2 separate regions of the Homo sapiens genome follow, and region 1 is linked to region 2. Evidence: fine-mapped expression QTL. A gene starts in region 2. The other region holds a variant in brackets. All regions are shown on one strand. Distances are from middle to middle.

Region 1 (9,496 bases), 46 kb after region 2:
GTCAACATGGTGAAACCCTGTCTCTACTAAAAATACAAAAATAAGCCAGGCGTGGTGGTGGGCGCCTGTAGTCCCAGCTACTCGGGAGGCTGAGACAGGAGAATTGCTTGAACCCAGGAGGTGGAGGTTGCAGTGAGCTGAATGCGCCATTGTACTCCAGCCTGGGAGACAGAGTGAGACTCCGTCTCAAAAACAAACAAACAAAAAAAAATTAGGTCTCGTAAGACTTATTCACTACCAGGAGAACAGTATGGGTGAAACCGCCCCATGATTCAATTATCTGGCCCTCCCCTTGACACGTGAGGATTGTTACAATTCAAGGTGAGATTCACGTGGGACACAGCCAAACCATATCAGACACTGAGGTTGATTACATATCTTGGCTATTGTGTAGTGCTGTGATAAACACAAGGGTACAGATAGCTCTGGACAAACTGATTTCCTTTCTTTTGAACACATACCTAGCAGTGGGGTTGCTGGATCATATGGTAGTTCTATGTTTTGTTTTTTGAGGATGATAACCTTTTTGTAGGCTCAGGTGTCCCTTTGAATCTGAAAAAAGTCATAAATGCTCTCCTAAGACATGTAACTTTTTGTAATTTTAGGGGGCTCCCAAAGCCTCTGATATTTATCAGAGATCCTCCAAAAAATAACGTCGGCTCAACCCAGACCCTCTATCTTAACTCTTCCTACAACTTCCCCAGTGGTCTTGTGTCTTTCCTGATGGTCTTCAAGAGCAGGAACTTCCTGTCTCTCCAGGCAGCCCATTCAAACAACAAGATTCAACAGAAACTTCTTCCCTCTGGTGAGAAGTCAGCTTCCCGGCATCGCTGCAGTGAGCCTGGAGCCCTGAGAACAGGTCAGCTCCCAGCTCCTAGACGGTTCCTCAGATGATGGCCTTTGGTCCTTCCCACCCTTCTTTCCTCAAAGGCTTTTTTTTTTTTTTTTTTTTGAGACAGGGTCTCGCTCTGTGGCCCAGGCTGGAGTGCAGTCGCACGATCTTGGCTCACTGCGACCTCCGTCTCCTGGGTTGAAGCGATTTTCCTGCCTCAGCCTCCCAAGTAGCTGGAATTACAGACACCCGCCATGACGCCCAGCTAATTTTCATATTTTTGTAGAGATGGGGTTTCACCATGTTGGCCAGGCTGCTGTTGAACTCCTGACCTCATGATCTGCCCGCCTCAGCCTCCCAAAGTGCTAGGATTACAGGCGTGAGTCACTGTGCCAGCCCTTTTTTTTTTTTTTTTTTTTTTTTTTTTTTTTTTTTGAGACAGAATCTTGCTCTGTTGCCCAGGCTGGAGTGCAGTGGCACCATCTCAGCTCACTGCAACCTCCGCCTCCTGCGTTCAAGCAGTTCTACTGTCTCACCCTCCCAAGTAGCTGAGACTACAGGTACACACCACTATGCCCAGCTAATTTTTGTATTTTTAGTAGAGACGGGGTTTCACCATATTGGTCAGGCTGGTCTTGAACTCCTGACCTCAGGTGGTTCACCCACCTCAGTCTCCCAACGTGCTGGGATTACAGGCGTGAGCTGCCATGCCCGGCTGGCTCCCTCTTTTTAAAATTTTTTTAGAGATGGGATCTCACTATGTTGCCCAGGCAGGACTCGAACTTCTGGGCTCCGGCAACCCTCTCATCTTAGCCTTCTGAGTAGCTGGGACTACAGGCATGTGCCACCAAGCCTGGCTAACTTCCCCCTTAAAGTGAGAGGCATGGAGATGACGGTGATGTTGCTTCTGAAAAGATGTCTTCATTTATGCTGAGAGCAGGTGTGGATGGAGGGAACCCCAAACCCCCTTTACATCCCCTTTTTTCTGACTCAGCCCAGCCTTGGCCAAGGGACTGGATATACCTTTCTGGGCCTAGATGAGTCCTACTGCAAACTAGCAGGCGGTTGATGAGATTGGGGTTACAAATGCAAATGCTTACACTGGGGTCATGCCAATAATAGAAACGTCTAGGAATATTCATTTCCTCTATAAACACGTAGGTTCTCTTCTGATTTCCTTGAAACATGCCACACTCTCAGTCTCGTTTCCTATTTCTGATGAATCCGTAGAGGCAGACTATCTAAAGTAATTAAAAAAAAAATGCAAGAGTGAAGGAAAATGATGGCGGGGCGTGGTGGCTCACACCTGTAATCCCAGCACTTTGGGAGGCCAAGGCAGGTGGATCACTTAAGGTCAGGAGTTTGAGACCAGCCTGGCCAACATGGTGAAACCCCATCTCTATTAAAAATACAAAAATTAGCCAGGCATGATGGCATGTACCTGTAATCCCAGATACTCAGGAGGCTGAGGCAAGAGAATCACTTGAACCTGGGAAGCCGAGGTTGCAGCAGGCTGAGATTGCCCCACTGTACTCCAGCCTGGGTGACAGAGCAAGACTGAGTCTCAAAAAAAAAAAAAAAAAAGGAGTGAAGGAAAATGACAACTGGCACTTGGTCTCAGTGGAGGGGAATAAGAGGGGCCTGCTGACTGTCTATGGGGAACATGTAGGATGCCCACTCTGTCTTTAGGGCAACTGGCACTCAGCATATGCTGATTGGTGCCATGTGGACATGGATGCCCAATGTTAGCAGATCTCACACACTTTCTAGAGAAATTGAACACATCAATTTTTATTTGAAATTTCCCGATTATTAAAACTTTGGCTCAAATTTTTCTTAAAAAGTAGGAGGGCCAAGTACAACGTATTCTGGACTGTGAGCTGCCAGCCTGCCATCTCCAGATTAGGTGGGTTTTTTGTTTGTTTGTGTTGTTTTGTTTTGTTTTTGAGACAGAGTCTCCATCTGTAGCCCAGGCTGGAGTGCAGTGGCGAGATCTAGGCTCACTGCAACCTCTGCCTCCCGGGTTCAAGCAATTCTCTGCCTCAGTCTCCCGAGTACCTGGTATTACAGGCACCTACCACCATGCCTGGCTAATTTTTTGCATTTTTAGTAGAGATGGGGTTTCACCATCTTGGCCAGGCTGGTCTTAATCTCCTGACGTCGTGGTCTACCCACCTCAGCCTCCCAAAGCGCTGGGATTACAGGTGTAAGCCACCGTGTCCGGGCTTTTTTTTTTTTCTTTTCTTTTGAGACAGGGTCTCCTCTGTCACTCAGGCTGGAGTGCACTAGTGCGATAATGACTTACTGTAGCCTCAACCTCCCAGGCTCAGGTGATCCTCCTGCCTCAGCTTCTTGAGTAGCTGGGACCACAAGTCTGTGCCACCTGGCCTGGCTAATTTTTTAAAAAATTATCTGTAGAGGCAGGGTCTCCCTATGTTGCCCAGGCATACCTTGAGCTTGTGGGCTCAAGCGATCCGCCCACCTCAGCCTCCCAAAAGGCTGGCATTACAGACGTGAGCCACTGAGCTATCCCAGATTAGGTGTTTTTAAAGCTGTCTTTCTGCTGGAATGTTCTATGGAGAGAGCAGTGAACAGGGAAGGAGGAAAAGAAGAAGGGATAGCAGGAGTCACTGGGGAATCTCTTTGAGACCCAGTTGCGGGGAGAGGAAGAAGGTCTGGCCTTTCTACTCAGTAAGGCTCTGTTTAGGTTAACCCTTCTTTTCCTCTTGCTGCTGGCTCTCACTTGGGAGAAACGTAATGGCCCAAGCCTTAAGAGTGTCTGAGCAGATCTGAACTGCATGCTCCAGTGTGTTGCTGGAGAGGCGTGGCTGTGGCTCTGGTGGAAGGTGAGAGGGGAGACCACTATCCTAGTCTAGAAGAGGCCTGAGGCCTCGGCCTCCAAGAGGACCGCTCTCTGTGCCCTGGCCTGCTGCTATCCCTGGAGGAGCCCCGGATGTCCTTCCGACTGGGCCTGTGTGTCAGGGAGAGAGAATGTAGTCTGTGGTCAGTGTGGCTGGCAGCCAGCCTGGCAGATGGCCAGAACCCAGAGCTCGCTGGGAAGGAGCATAAACAAGGCGCCTGGTGGGCAGCTGTGACCCAGAATCTTCCAGCAGAAGAGCAGTGAGGAAGGAGGGGGGAATGCCAGGGGGACCCTCGCCCCGATTCCCCAGGCTGCCCAGCACTCAGGCATCAGTCAGGGACAGCATGGGGCTCCCTGAGGCACCGGGCAAGCAGCTGCCACAGAAAGAACTGGAGGAGCCCACTTTGAAGGGGTCTCCTGAGACTCTGTGATCCCATGACTCTGTGATTCAGCTTTTCTTACACTGTAGAGTCACTCTGTACAGAGGACATCTGTGGTTTTCCCTTGCCGAGCATCCACTCTGCTCCTTCTGTTAGCAGCACCCTAGTTATCCTCC[G/A]GGAAACCACCCCGCCTCCACTCAGTCCATGCGGTTTGGGTGAGGCTGACTTTGCTTTTCCACCCTCCCAGCTTGAGGGTGGGCATGTGTGCCCGGCCTGGCCAATCAGCAGACTTCTTCTTCTGCTGGATCCAGTGAAACCCAATCCAAGGGATTTTGCTGGAACTCTTGGGAAAAGTAAAATTGACAGCAATTGGCTTGATGCATATCTGGAGGTGCTGGGGGCCATCTGGTCCTGACATGGGAGGAGCTTGCCAGAGAATGAAGCCATCACAGAGAAAGACAGCATAGAGAGGGAGGGAGAGGACAACAGATTGATTAATTGACATGTGTAAGAGACAGAAAAATAACTGAGACTTGATGAAATGGTTTGAGCTCCTAGATCCAGCTTTAAATGATGTAGTTGGTATCTAATCCCTGGACTTTTCAGTGAAGGGGTCTAGAATATGCTGCCATGGCATAAAAATTATTATGAGCAGAAGGGATTTGAGTTCCTGAAATCTTTGATCTGCCTAAAAGTAGAGCCTCCCAAAAGAACTCAATTATAAATCCCCTCCCAGAGCAATCAGGGAAGATTGACTGTTATCTCTGAAGGCTAGAAGTCACCACACCTAAACAGACTGTCACAAAATTATCATATCTCCCATCTATTCTCCTAAGGGCCCATCTCTCTTTCCTAAAAGTCACGTGTTCCTGTAAGTGCCCTTCTCCCTTTTCCTTCCTCTATTAAGATGGTATATAAACTCCCAATTCTAATGCCTTCCTGAGTCACATTTTTGTGTGAATTCCTTTAAGGATAAGATTAAATGATTAAATCCGTCTCTTCTCATGCTAATCTGTCTTTTGTCAGTTTAATTTGCAGGCCCCCAGTCATTATCCTAACAAGGTAGAGGAAAACTTTTCCCTGCCCCGTCTCCACCTGCTCATCTAAGCTTCCATGACTCCAACATTCTACACAAGTCTATGATTTACCTAAGAACTAAATTCTACTTCATTTTCTTCAAGGCAGAAAGAAGCCAGCAAAGAACCTGGGGCCCTTTAAAACCCACCCTGATTGCTTGGAATTGGAGGGATTTGCCAATGAAATCTCAAGGATCCTGGCTGCATTTCTGCCCTGTCAGCACCCCCGGTGTTATCGGAAAAGGGGGTCCTGATACAGAACTCAAGAGAGGGTTCTTGGACCTCACACAACAAAGAGTTTGGGGAGAGTCCATAAAGTGAAAGCAAGTTTATTAAGGAAATAAAGGAATAAAAGAACGGCTACTCCATAGGCAGAGCAGCAGCTTGGGCTGCTGGACTAAGGATACTTATTGCTTGATTATATGCTAAACAGGGGGTGAATTATTCATGATTTTTCAGGAAAGGGGTGGGCAATTTCCGGAGCTGAGGGTTCCCCCTCTTTTAGACCATATAGGGTAACTTCCTGATGTTGCCGTGGCATTTGTAAACTGTCGTGGCACTGGTGGGAGTGTCTTTTAGCATGCTACTGCATTGTAATTAGTGTATAATGAGTGGTGAGGATGACCAGAGGTCACTTTCATGACCATCTTGGTTTTGTTGAGTTTTGGCCGGTGTCTTTACTGCAACCTGTTTTATCAGCAAGGTCTTTTATGACCTGTATCTTGTGCCGACCTCCTATCTCATCAACGCGTGACTAAGGATGCCTTAACTTTTTGGGAATGCAGCCCAGTAGGTCTCAGCATTATTTTACTCAGCTCCTGTTCAAGATGGAGTCGCTCTGGTTTGAATGCCTCTGACAACAGCATATACCCTAGGGAAACTTGATTTCTAGAGCACAAACCCGCAAAGAGAATGCCATGGGTCCTAGTAGTGTCCTTCATTCATCTGTCAATTCAATGCAAATGTATGGAACACCAACTGTTTTCAAAGATGAAGTTCTTATCCTCAGAGATCTTAGATTTTGGTGAGGAAAACAGACCAGTAAAAAAAATTTCATCAGAAAGTGATTAGTGCTATATTAGAGGTAAGTACCGAGAAGCAGCCTGTAGACCAGGGGGAGGCAGTAGGCATGACATAGGTGCTTCATGAAAGAAGTGACCTTTGAGCTGAATTCCACAGGATGAGGAGTCAGGCAGGAGAGAGGGTAGAAGAAGAGCTTTCCGGGCAAGCAAAGGAGCAATATGAGGTGCCAAATCCAAGGGATGGGAGAGGCTGTGGCTTGTAAGAGGAATTAGCTGGGGTAGAGTTGGTGTGGGTAGAGATTCCCTATTAGGGAACAGGGTGGCTGGCATGCTGTTTGACAAGCTGGTTTTGATGAGGGCTGCTTCCTACATGTAAGAACATACAGACAGCAAGCAACACAGCTCAGTCCCAAACCTGAGCCCCGGGCAAAGCCTGACTCATGTCCAAAGAGTAGAAAACAAGCTGGTGGATCCCCAGTCAGGGTTCCAAGCCAAGGGGTACAGCAGAGCCTCTGAGCATACGTATTGGTGAGCTCCATGCCCACAGTGGGCACTTGGACCTTTCCCTATTGGAAATTACTGTAGGCCACTAAAGGCAGGGCCCAGCGATACTTTGCAAAAATCTTCATTCTCTTCTCCCGCTCCCCAATTCCTCCTAGATACCCCTTTTTCCCATGCATGTCCTTCAGCTCTGCAGAGCCTATGAGGACAGTAAATGACCATGTGTAAAAGTAGGTGCTTTGTGGAGCCAGGCAACCCCAGGTTCCACTCCTTGCTGGGCCATTATTGAGAGTGTGACCTTTTTTTTTTTCCCCTTTTGGCTTTTTTCTGGGGGTTGGGGTGAAGGACACAGTCTCACTCTGTTGCCGAGGCTGGAGTGCAGTGGTGTGAGCATAGCTCACTGCAGCCTTGAACTTCTGGGCTCAAGCAATCCTCCTGCCTCAGCGTCCCATGTAGCTGTTACTACAGGTATGCACCGCCATGCCCAGCTGATTTCTTTATTTTGTAGAGACAAGGTCTTGCTGTGTTGCCTAGGCTGGTCTTGAACTTCTGGCCTCAGGCAATCTGGCCTCCCAAAGTACTGGGATTACAGGCATGAGCCACTGTGCCTGGCATGAGTGTGACCCTTTTTTTTTTTAATTTAAAATTTTTTAAAATTTTATGTATTTATTTTCTGAAACGGGGTCTCACTCTCTTACCCAGCCTGGAGTGCAGTGGCGCAATCTCGGCTCACTGCAACCTCCGCCTCCTGGGTTCAAGTGATTCTCCTGCCTCAGCCTCCCAAGTAGCTGGGAAAGTAGGTGCCTGCCACCATGCCTGGCTAATTTTTGTATTTTTAGTAGAGACAGGGTTTTGCCATTTTGGTCAAGCTGATCTTGAACTCCTGACCTCAAGTGATCCGCCTGCCTCAGCCTCCCAAAGTGCTGGGATTACAGGCGTGAGCCACTGCGCCCAGCCAAGTGTGACCTTCTGACACAGTTTCTCTGTATCTCTCTCCTCCTCTGCAGAATGAAGATTATAGTACAGATTACATGAAGTAATGCATATATAGTGAAACAGTCATAAATTCACTCATTGACTCTTTTGTCTGTGGAGCATTCCTTTCTTTGGGAATCCATGCTATTCATTCCATGTACTCTGTTGAGACTTTCAGTCAGAGCCTTGGCCTCTTCCTGGGCACAGGGTAGGGGCACAGACCATGCCCAGCCAATCATGAGATCCCCTTTTTGGCAACAGTGATTGGTCCCTGGGGTGGGCTGAAGCCTCAAGAAAGCCAACCAGAGCCTGCCTTGGGAAAGGACTGCTTCTTCCTGGGGTTACTGAGCTGGGAGAATATAAATCCCGAGAGAGCCTGTCTATCTGTGGATGAAGTCACTTCTTAGAAGGAAATACAGCCAAGATGACGAAGATGATGTAGACATCATCTTGCATTGCTTGAAGCCAGATTCACTTCCTGACTTCCTAATTCTATGAGCCAGTTCGTTAGTTGGGTTTTCCTTATTTAGTTGGGGTTCCTTTACTTGTAGTCATAAGAATCTTAAATCATTTGGCATGCAAAGCCCTGAGCACAGTATCTGCCACATACGAAGGGCTCAAAGAATTGTCACTACAGTGAGGAGGGTGGAAATGATCTTATTCCCCCTTCATCACCACCGTTTTTACTCCCAGAACACAGTTTCACTTCTTTTCCTTCTGGTCTGCTGGCTGTGTGGGCTTCCCATTGGCAGGAATGGGGTAGGGGTCAGGGATACAGTGACAGGCAAGCCAAACTACCCAGTGCCCACCAGACAGACAGCATGGGAGCTGTGGCCACACCACCAACGTCCCCAGCGTGTCCACTGAATGTGATTGGAATCAACTGCACGGTAGAGCAGGAATAAGCTGGAGTCAGACTGACCTAGTTTAAATTCCATCGCTAGAGCTGTGTGACCTATAAAAGGTCACTTTATCTTTCCAGGCTTCTGTTTTTTTTTTTCTATAAAACCAAAACAATAATGGCCCCTGTTTCTCCAAGGGAAGTCATGAGGATTAAATGAGGAAAAAAAGAGAAACCTGGTATTAATATTGTGGTATTAATATGTTCCGGGCATTGGTCTAAGCACTTTGCAAGCTATTAGTCTAATTAACCTTCACAACAAGCCTGGGTGGCAGGTATTACTATTCTTCCCACTTAAAAGATAAAGGAATTGTGGCCGGGCGTGGTGGCTTACATCTGTAATCCCAGCACTTTGGGAGGCTCAGGCGGGTGGATCACCTGAGGTCAGGAGTTCAAGACCAGCCTGGCCCACATGGTGAAACCCCCTCTCTACCAAAAATAAAAAAATTAGCCAGGCGTGGTGGTTGATGCCTGTAATTCCAACTACTAGGGAGGCTGAGGCAGGAGAATCGCTTGAACCTAGGAGGCAGAGGTTGCGGTGAGCCGAGATCACGCCATTGCACTCCAGCCTGGGCAACAAGAGCGAAACTCTGCCTCAAAAAAAAAAAAAAAAAAAAAAAAAAAATGAAGGAATTGAGGTTAGTGTGCCCTGAAGTAGAACCCAGCAGTTGTGGTACATCATGTGATATCTGAAAAGCAAGGGAAGGGGCAACAACTGGGGGCCCTGATGGTGCCTCCTTCCCTTTACATTTTCATATCTAGAAGCCTCTACAGACAGCTCTACATTGCTGGGTGCAGACCCGCCATAAAAAGCAAGCTCTCTCCTCTTTTGAGATGGAGTCTTGCTTTGTCGCCCAGGCTAGAGTGCGATGGCATGGTCTTGGCTCACTGCAACCTCCGCCTCCCAGGTTCAAGCAGTTCTCCTGCCCCAGCTTCCTGAGTAGCTGGG
Region 2 (9,496 bases):
CGCTTGAGCCCAGGAGCACGAGATCAGCCTGAGCAACACAGTGAGACCCTCATCTCTACAAAAGATACAAAAACAGGCTGGGCACGGTGGCTCATGCCCATAATCCCAGCACTTTGAGACGCCGAGGTAGGCAGATTACCTGAGGTCAGGAGTTAGAGACCAGCCTGACCAACATGGTGAAACCCCCGTCTCTACTAAAAATACAAAAATTAGCCGGGCGTGGTGGCGGGCACCTGTAATCCCAGCTACTCGGGAGGCTGAGGCAGGAGATTCACTTGAACCCAGGAGGTGGAGGTTGCACTGAGCTGAGATCATGCCACTGCACTCCAGCCTGGGTGACAGAGTGAGACTCCATCTCAAAAAAAGGAAAAAAAAAAAAATTAGCCAGGCGTGGTGGTATGCGCTTGTAGTCCCAGCTATTTGGGAAGCTGAGGTGGAAGAACGCAGTGAGCTACGATCCCAGCACTGCACTGCAGCCTGAGCAACATAGCGAGACCCTGCCTCCTAAAAACAAAAACAAAAAAAAACACTGTCTCCTGGATCCATCAGTAAACCCCAAAACTGCACAGGAAAGTGTGCAATCAACATAAGTGCGAATTACAAAATATACTGGCAGGTCCATTTTTCCAGATTAAACTGTAAAAAAAAAAAGGAAATCCAACTAGTCAATCATTAGTCCAATAATAATTCCTTGAATTGCTAAATTTTAGTGTTTTATTTCCTCAACATTTCCACAATTTTTTTTAAGACAGGGTCTCATTCTGTCACCCAGGCTGGACTGTGTGATCTTAGCTACTGTAACCTCCACCTCCAGGGCTCAAGAGATTCTCCCACCTCAGCCTCCCAAGTAGCTGGGACCACAGGCACAAGCCACCACGCCCAGCTAAGTTTTATATTTTTTTCGTAGAGACAGGGTTTCACCATGTTGCCCAGGATCCTCTGGAACTCCTGCGCTCAAGTGATCTGCCTGCCTTGGCCTCCCAAAGTGCTGGGCCCCTGTAATCCCAGCTACTCCGGAGGCTGAGGCAAGAGAATTGCTTCAGCCCGGGAGGCGGAGGTTGCAGTGAGCCGAGATCGCATCACTGCACTCCAGCCTGTGCGGCAGAGCAAGACTCCGTCTTGGAAAAAATAAATAAATAAATAAATAATAGTAATAGGATCCTTTCACTTCAGAATATTCAAATGGAAAAGGTTCATATTAGGAATAGCTCCTCCAACAAAAGAAATTGCTGTTTCTAAGCACTGATAGCATGAGACCAAAACTCAATAGCAATTCTCCACTAAAGAAAATTTTTTAAAAATAAAGCACTAACACAATGAGCACTTATCCATTCCATTTCCAAAAACAACTTACCTTCTGCACCTTCCTTTTGCAGATTTGAAATCCAGATTCTCACACAATCACTGGCCATCTCTTCTGTTTCATTCAACAGCATACACACCAGAGTGTCTCTTACTATTATATACATCAGTAGAGGCCGGGCGAGGTGGCTCATGCCTGTAATCTCAGCACTTTGGGAGGCCAAGGTGGGTGGATCACCTGAGGTCAGGAGTTTGAGACCAACCTGACCAACATGGTGAAACCCCATCTCTACTAAAAATACAAAATTAGCCAGGCGTGGTGGCACATGCCTGTAATCCCAGCTACTTGGGAGGCTGAGGTAGGAGAATCACTTGAACCAGGGAGGTGGAGGGTGCAGTGAGCAGAGATTGTACCACTGCAGCCTGGACAACAAGAGCGAAACTCTGTCTCAAAAATAAATAAATAAATAAATAAATAAAATACATCAATAGAAAGCACACTCACCTTATTCTGCTTTCTAATTATGAAAACAGGAGTGCAGGCCGGGCACAGTGGCTCACGCCTGTAATTTCAGCACTTTGGAAGGCCAAGGCAGTAGGATCGCTTGAGCCCAGGAGTCTGAGACCAGCCTAGGCAGCACAGCAAGACCCTGTCTCTATTAAATAAGTAAACAAACAAACATAAACAGAAGTGCAAATGCCCTAATCCAAAATTATTTTTAAAAAAGATACTTGAGGCCGGGCACGGCGGCTCATGCCTGTAATCCCAGCCCTTTGGGAGGCTGAGGCGGGTGGATAACCTGAGGTCAGGATTTCAAGACCAGCCTGGCCAACATGGTGAAATCCCGGCTCTAGTTAAAAAATACAAAAATTAGACCAGCATGGTGGCGCACGCCTGTAGTCCCAGCTACTTGGGAGGCTGAGGCGGGAGAATCGCTTGAACCCAGGAGGCGGAGGTTGCAGTGAGACGATATGGCGCCACTGCACTCCAGCCTGGGTGACAGAGTGAGACTCCGTCTCAAAAAAAAAAAAAAAGATATTTGAGATTAAATAATACAGAATAACTGCTCTCATCTTTCCCCTCAAACACCATACTTCAATATGAAATTTTAAATGGCTTTTTTCCCCAAATGGGAAAGAAGGATTCCTGGGTCTTGATGGGAGAGCAAGCAAGTTTAAGAGTAAAACATACTAATAAGCCATTGCAAACAGGTGAGATACGATCAGAGCGTGTGCTGTTGCAGGAAACAGAATGGAAAGCCGTGAATGGGAGTCTCTGCACTTCATATCTGCAAAAGAAGAGAATAAAAAGGTTAACTCCAGACTTAGAACAGGTTCTCTTCCCCTGTTGAAAGCAGAGCCCAAAAACATTTTAAATCAAAAAATGAAAATGTGGTTAAGCCAAATTTGTAGATGAACTCAACCTTCTTGTCCTTAATACATAAACTGAATCCCAGGTGTTAGAAGTTACTTGAACATTTTTATGCTACACCACCTTGACATTAAAGGATTTTTTAAAAATCTCCAATCTCTTCTTTAAACTTTTCTTAAACTATCATTAAAATTAGCAAAATATGCTTCTCTGTTGAATGGTTAACCTAACGGGAATGACTTCTAACCGTAAGAATTACAGTTAAAAGGTTCATTTTAACAAATGCTCTTCCCCCTGTAAGGAGTGACAGGTAACCTTTTGGGAACCCCAATGTACACACCCCTTTCTCCAATCCCGCTAAAGTTAAACGTTAGAGGACAGACAAGTGCCTCCTCGCAAGCAATGCCCCCCGCCCCCCCGTCCCCCCGTCCAACACTCCGTTCTCTGCAAAAATCCATCTGCATCTTGCATTAACCCACCCGCCCAGTGACGGTGACTCCAGGCCAAGTCGCAGAAGAAGACCAGGCGTGAGGGGTGAGACCTGTGAGCCCATCTGCACCTGCACCCTCCCACCTGGTGGCACACCTGCCCCGCAGGCGCCCACCTGGGGCCGGGACCGCCCTCTCCCGGTCTCGCGCGCCTGCCCCACTCGGAGCGCGCGCCACGCGCCGCGCAGGACCAGAGGGCGGGGCCCCGGGCAGCGGGGAAGCGAGGGCTCGGGGAGAGGGGGCCGCCCGGGCTCACTCCCTCCCTGGGGACCCAGCGGACCGGAGGGTGCTGGGGGCGGGCGCGGTACCTTTTGGACAGATCCATGAGGACCCCGGAGAAGAGCTTCTCCCCGAAGCGGAACGACACGACAAGCGCGTCCTCAATGATGTGGTCCAGCGTGACCCGCACCTCCGAGCCCGGGATCAGTTGCGACACCGTGGAGTCCCCGCCCGCCGGCGGCACGAGCGCCGGGGCTACGGGCTGAGGCAGCGGCGGCTCCTCGCGCTCCTCGGGAGCCGGGGGCTGCTCCGGCGGCGATGCAGGAGAAGGTGGAAGTTCCGGCCCTCCCTGAGGCGCGGCTGCCGCCGACTCCGCCACCCGAACGGACAGTTTCTCCTCAGCCTCCAGCTCCGGCCCCACCGCCTCTGGGCTGCGGGCGAGCTCCCCCGGCGGCGGCGGTGGCGGCGGGAGCGGCGGCTCGTCGGCCTGAGGAGCGGATTGCTGCCCGTCAGTCTCGCCATCCGGCACAGACGCTTCAGTGGCCGTGACCGGGAGGGGGTCAGTGCCGGCCTCACTGCCGGGGATGGGCTCCATCTCCGGCTCGGCCTCGCCGGCGCCCCCCTCCCCGGGGGACGCTGCAGTCGCTGCCGCCTCTGCAGCCACGGCCGCCATTTTCTTCCTAGCTTCTCCCTCCTCCAACTCCGGCTGCAGCGGCGGCGGCGACAGCGCTGCTTGGTTCCCTGGGCCTTCCCCTCCCTCCCGCGAACACTTTCGTCCCGCCCTTTCCCTGATGCTCGTTTCTGGCACCTCGCCATTGGTTGCATTCTACACCCCTCCCGCACTTTTGATATTCCATTGGCCAGGGATGGACGTCTATCATCTAGTCAGTCCATCCTTCCCACGCAGAGTAGGAACTTCTCATTGGCCAGATGTGTTGTCAAGTGTGGAATCTGAGTGGAGGAATAGGGGGCGGAATCAAAGGGGGCGGGGGAAGTCACAAAAGAGGAGCCATATACTCATCGCCTCTTGCTATTGGCTGGAAGAGGAAATAAAGTTTTATGGTTGGCCTACGCTCCTGCCCATTATCAGCCAGGTCTTTGGAGGTGGGAGAAAGGATGGAATCATGTGGCGTGCCACTTCTTTCAAAGGCGGCCGAGGGGAGGAGTAACAAGGGAATGCGGGAGGGGAACCGCTTCCCAAGAATCTCTGCGCAGAGATCCTTAGAATAAATGTTATTTCTAGGCGCGGACTTCTTGCGGCCGCGTGTGGGCACGACAGGCTTCTTTGGGAAAGACAACTAAAGTTTGAAATACAATCCTACAGACACTTTTTGAGTGCCTACTATGCTAGTCACTGCACTAGGTGCTGGGGAATGGAATGTTCAAGACGTTCTCCATAACCTCATAGCAGCGGGCTCCAGCGGCCATGAGGAGTACGAGGAGTATTTTCCTTGACTTCTAGGAGTATGATGAGTATTTTCCTTGACTTCTCTCCACTTCCTAGGAACAAAGCACCTATTTATTAATATTTCAGAAATAGGAAAATGCTCATGAAAGAAGAGAGACACCATCCTCACTGGATTAAACTGATGACTGTTCCAGGAAGGAGTCTTGAGACATTGCTGGACTGATATGTGAACACTGCTTGTTCTCTCCAAATCCACTTGCAAAGTGGACGCACCTGGTCCCTGCTAAAGCCTTTTTCTTTCCTGGCTTCTCCAATGCCACGAGAACAAAAGATCTCTCACTTCAGTGTCCTGACGCCCCTACTTCTCTTACTTCCACATCAAGTCTTTTCGTTTGTCATCTCTGGAAGAATCTACTGAACCTATTTCTCTCAAATGGCACCACAGAGTCAGCCTTTTTTCTGGGAGAATGCCTGCAGGAGAGAGGGTAGAAAAACTGCTAGCAATGAAAGTAAAAAAAATAAAGTCCTGAAGAATAATTACAGCTAGTGTCTTTTGAGTACCATGTACCAGGCACTAATACAAACACTATAGCATATCATCTCAATCCTTAAAATTTTGAGGCACAAAGAGGGTGCCCAAGGTTACTCGGCTGGTAAATTGCATAGTCAGAATTTCAGTTTTACATGGAAAAGACTGAAAATAGCAATAAACAAATATCACCATATGCTCTGCCTATTTCAAACCAAGTGGCTCGTGGGGAAAGGCCAGTAGAAGATCCCAATCAGGGAAGTTTCAGAATATCATTTAAAAATACAGAAAGAAACAAATGTACTTAGTGTTCATTTTGTACCAGAGATTTTCCCAAAACTCTCACTTAAAATCCTGTGACTTAAATCTTCTCCCTTTTTTACAGATGAGGAAGCCAAGCCTTAGCCATGTTAAACATCCTAAGCGGGCCAAGCGCGGTGGCTCAAGCCTGTAATCCCAGCACTTTGGGAGGCCGAGGCAGGCGGACCACCTGAGGTCAGGAGTTTGAGAACAACCTGACCAACATGGTGAAACCCCATCTCTACTAAAAATACAAAATTAGCTGAGCATGGTGGCGCATGCCTGTAATCCCAGCTACTTGGAAACCTGAGGCAAGAGAATTGCTTGAACTCAGGAGGCGGAGGTTGCAGTGAGCCGAGATGTGCCCACTGCACTCCACTCTGGGCAACAAGAGTGAAACTCCGTATCAAAAAAATAAAAATAAAAAGATAATAAGATCTTAAGGGTCATACAGCTAGCTAGCAGCAGATCCTATCTAACCTGGGTCCTTCCAAGTACATGACTTTCACTCAATCATTCATTCATCAAAGAGTTATCTCCTTCAGGCTAGATACTTGCAGTAAGCAGATACAGATTCTGCCTTATAGGGTTTTCACCATAATATTTTGTCTACAGTTCACCATAATCAACTAATTAAACACAACATAGAGTCTATGAAATGCCTAGACCCTAAGGTCTCACATTGTATAATCTCCCACAGGGAGAAAAATATAGTTCGGGTCCTGGGACCTGATTACCTCTTGTAGTAATTCATTACAAGATGCTGCAATGAGTAATTTACATTTCAGCTTCATAATAGATTGTGGCATACCAAGTCATTGTCCTAAGCCACCATTTCATTCTGTAACTCAAGAGCTTCTACTGGCTCCCAATGCTCACATGGAGTGTACCTTCTTCTGCTTGGCTTTCAAAGCCCTCTCTGTGTTGTCACCTTACCTTTCAAGGTCTCTTTTCCACTACTCTTCAAGCCTCCTAATACTAGAAAGATTTGGTCTTATATTATTCATTCACTTATTCATTCATTCAACAAATAAATATTAAAGGGGCCGGGCGCGGTGGCTCATGCCTGTAATCCTAGCACTTTGGGAGGCTGAGGCGGGTGGATTACCTGAGGTCAGGAGTTCAAGACTAGCCTGGCCAACATGGTGAAACCTTGTCTCTACTAAAAATACAAAAAATTAGCCGAGTGCAGTGGCACGCACCTGTAATCCCAGCTACTCAGGAGACTGAGGCAGAAGAATCGCTTGAACCCAGGAGGCGGAGGTTATGGTTAGCCAAGATTGTGTCACTGCACTCCAGCCTGGGTGACAGAGCAAGACTTTGTCTCAAAAAAAATTAATAAATAATAAATAAATATTAAAGGACTACTGTGTTTCAGTGACTGGACTAGTCAGGCAGAAGGCATGAAATAAAGAATACAAAAGATATCACTTGAGTTCAGGAGTTCAAGACCAGCCTGGGCAACACAGGGGTTTCACTGTGTTGCCCAGGCTGGTGAATATATATATATACGAAAGATTTAGTAACTGCCCTCCTGAGGATTATTTTTCTAGTTGGGGAACTGTAAAATGAGCATACAATGAATAAAAAGATGATCACAGATGTAAGCAATACCATGAGAGAAATAAACAGGGTGAGAGAATAGAAGTAGCTGGCAGAGGGGCTGAAGGGTGTCTCCTCTAGATAAGGTTGTCACAAAAGCCCTCTCTGAGGATTGGACATCTTAACTAAGATGCAAAGGAAAAGGCAACCAGCTATTGATATTGCTGGATGAACATTTGGATGAAAAGGAACAGCAATTGTTTGAAGTTCTGAGGCAAAAGAGGGCTTGGCTTGTTCCAGAAACAGAAGGAAGACCAATCTGGTTGAGGAATGAGCAAGAAGTTGAGTAGATGAGGTTGAAAAGGAAAACAGGACCCAAATCATGTTTTGTACTGCAGATACAAAAGCAAGGGATTCTGCCCTCAGGGAGCTCCAAATCTAGTGGAAAGCCTGGGCCAGCCATAGTGGCTCATGCCTGTAATCCCAACATTTTGGGAGACTAAGGCAGGAGGATTGCTTGAGCCTAGGAGTTTGAGGCTGTAGTAAGCTATGACCATGCCACTGCACTCCAGCCTTGCAAGACGGTGAGACCCGAACTCAAAGAAAAAAAAGAAACCTGGCTTTTACATTTGCTTTTGTAATCTATTCACCTCTGCATTCAGCCTCCTCCTGGCATGGAATTGGTATGGAGGATGCCTTTGATATTTGTTTAATGGATGGCCACATGATATTTGTGGCTGACTAGGTGATTGGATGGATGGTTGATGGATTGGATGGATAGTTGGAGAACTGAACAGACGGTTGAATAGATGAATGGATGGTTGAATGAATAGATGAATGGCAGGGATAAGGAAACCAGCTGATTGCTGAAACAGATCCTCACTTTCATGAGCATACTTTCATCTCAAGCTCTGCAAGATACTATAATATGGTGGCTAAAATTCAGTTGAAGTAAATAAACCTGTAACTGGCCAGGCTCAGTGACTCACATCTGTAATCCCAGCATTTTGGGAGGCGGAGGCAGGCAGATCACCTGAGCTCAAGAATTTGACACAAGCCTGGGCAACGTGGCAAAACCCTGTCTCTACAAAAAATACAAAAATTAGACAAGCATGATGGTGTGTGCCTGTAGTCCCAGCTACTCAGGAGGCTGAGCCCGGGAGATTGAGGTTGCAGTGAGCCATGATTTTACCACTACACTTCAGCCTGGGCAACAGAGTGAGATGCTTTCTCAAAAATAAAAAATAAAGCCAGGCGCGGTAGCTCATGCCCATAATCCCAGCACTTTGGGAGGCCGAGGCTGGTGGATCACCTGAGGTCAGGAGTTCAAGACCAGCCTGGCCAACACAGTGAAACCCCATCTCTACTAAAAAAAATTAGCTGGAAGTGGTGGTGCATGCCTGTAATCCCAACTACTCAGGAGGCTGAGGCAAGAGAATTGCTTGAACTACTCAGGAGGCAGATGTTGCAGTGAGCCAAGATCGCGCCATTGCACTCCAGCCTGGGCAACAAGAGCGAAACTCCGTCTCAAAAAAAAAAAAATAAGCCAGGCATGGTGGCTCACGCCTGTAATCCCAGCACTTTGGGAGGCCGAGGTGGATGGATCACCTGAGGTCAGGAGTTCGAGACCAGCCTGGCCAACATGGTGAAAACCTGTCTCTACTAAAAATACAAAAATTAGCCAGGCATGGTGGCATGCACCTGTAGTCCCAGCTACTGGAGAATTGCTTGAACCCTGGAGGTGGAGGTTATGGTGAACCGAGATCGTGCCACTGCACTCCAGCCTGGGTGACTGAGCAAGACTCCGTCTCAAAAAATAAAAATAAAAAATAGCGCCGGGCGCGGTGGCTCACGCCTGTAATACCAGCACTTTGGGAGGCCGAGGCGGGCAGATCACAAGGTCAGGAGATCGAGACCATCCTGGCTAACATGGTGAAACCCCATCTCTACTAAAAATACAAAAAATTAGCCAGGCGTAGTGGCAGGCTCCTGTAGTCCCAGCTGCTCTGGAGGCTGAGGCAGGAGAATGGCATGAGCCCGGGAGGCGGAGCTTGCAGTGAGCCGAGATCGTGCCACTGCACTCCAGCCTGGGCAACAGAGCGAGACTCCGTCTCAATAAATAAATAAATAAATAAATAAATAAATAAATAAATAAATAAATAAAATAATATAAATAATAAAAAAATAAATAAAACTGTATCTGACTCCCCAGTCATCCTCTGACTACCTATATGATCTGAGCATGATCTTAGGCAAATCACTTAACCTATTTCCTCATTTGTAAAACATCTTAATAATAACTACTTACCAATAGAGATTACTAGGGGGGTTTTTGT

Alleles and levels. Positions count from the first base shown, and alleles are read on the strand shown. Sizes are in standard deviations (SD) of each study's normalised expression.
As copies of A replace G in region 1, the expression in macrophages of the gene that starts at base 4,116 in region 2 goes up (large effect, 0.87 SD a copy in Nedelec 2016).

Evidence for each region.
Region 1: its variant is fine-mapped to the expression of PWWP2A in macrophages (Nedelec 2016, PIP 0.95).

Annotation. Positions count from the first base shown.
Region 1 is chr5:160,161,489-160,170,984 of GRCh38, forward strand. No RefSeq gene overlaps it. Among named protein-coding and RNA genes, the nearest start is that of FABP6-AS1, 44 kb to the right of the region's middle. RefSeq lists enhancers at 1-408, 1,066-1,720, 3,402-4,001, 4,254-4,548, 5,203-5,803 and a silencer at 4,254-4,548. The variant G/A (reference allele first, on the strand shown) is at 4,249.
Region 2 is chr5:160,115,335-160,124,830 of GRCh38, forward strand. PWWP2A (PWWP domain containing 2A) reads right to left here and starts at 4,116. Exons shown (of 2, transcript NM_001130864.2): 1 at 3,471-4,116. The coding sequence starts at 4,054. RefSeq lists silencers at 3,112-3,531, 3,652-3,831, 3,932-4,031, 4,192-4,241 and an enhancer at 3,668-4,167.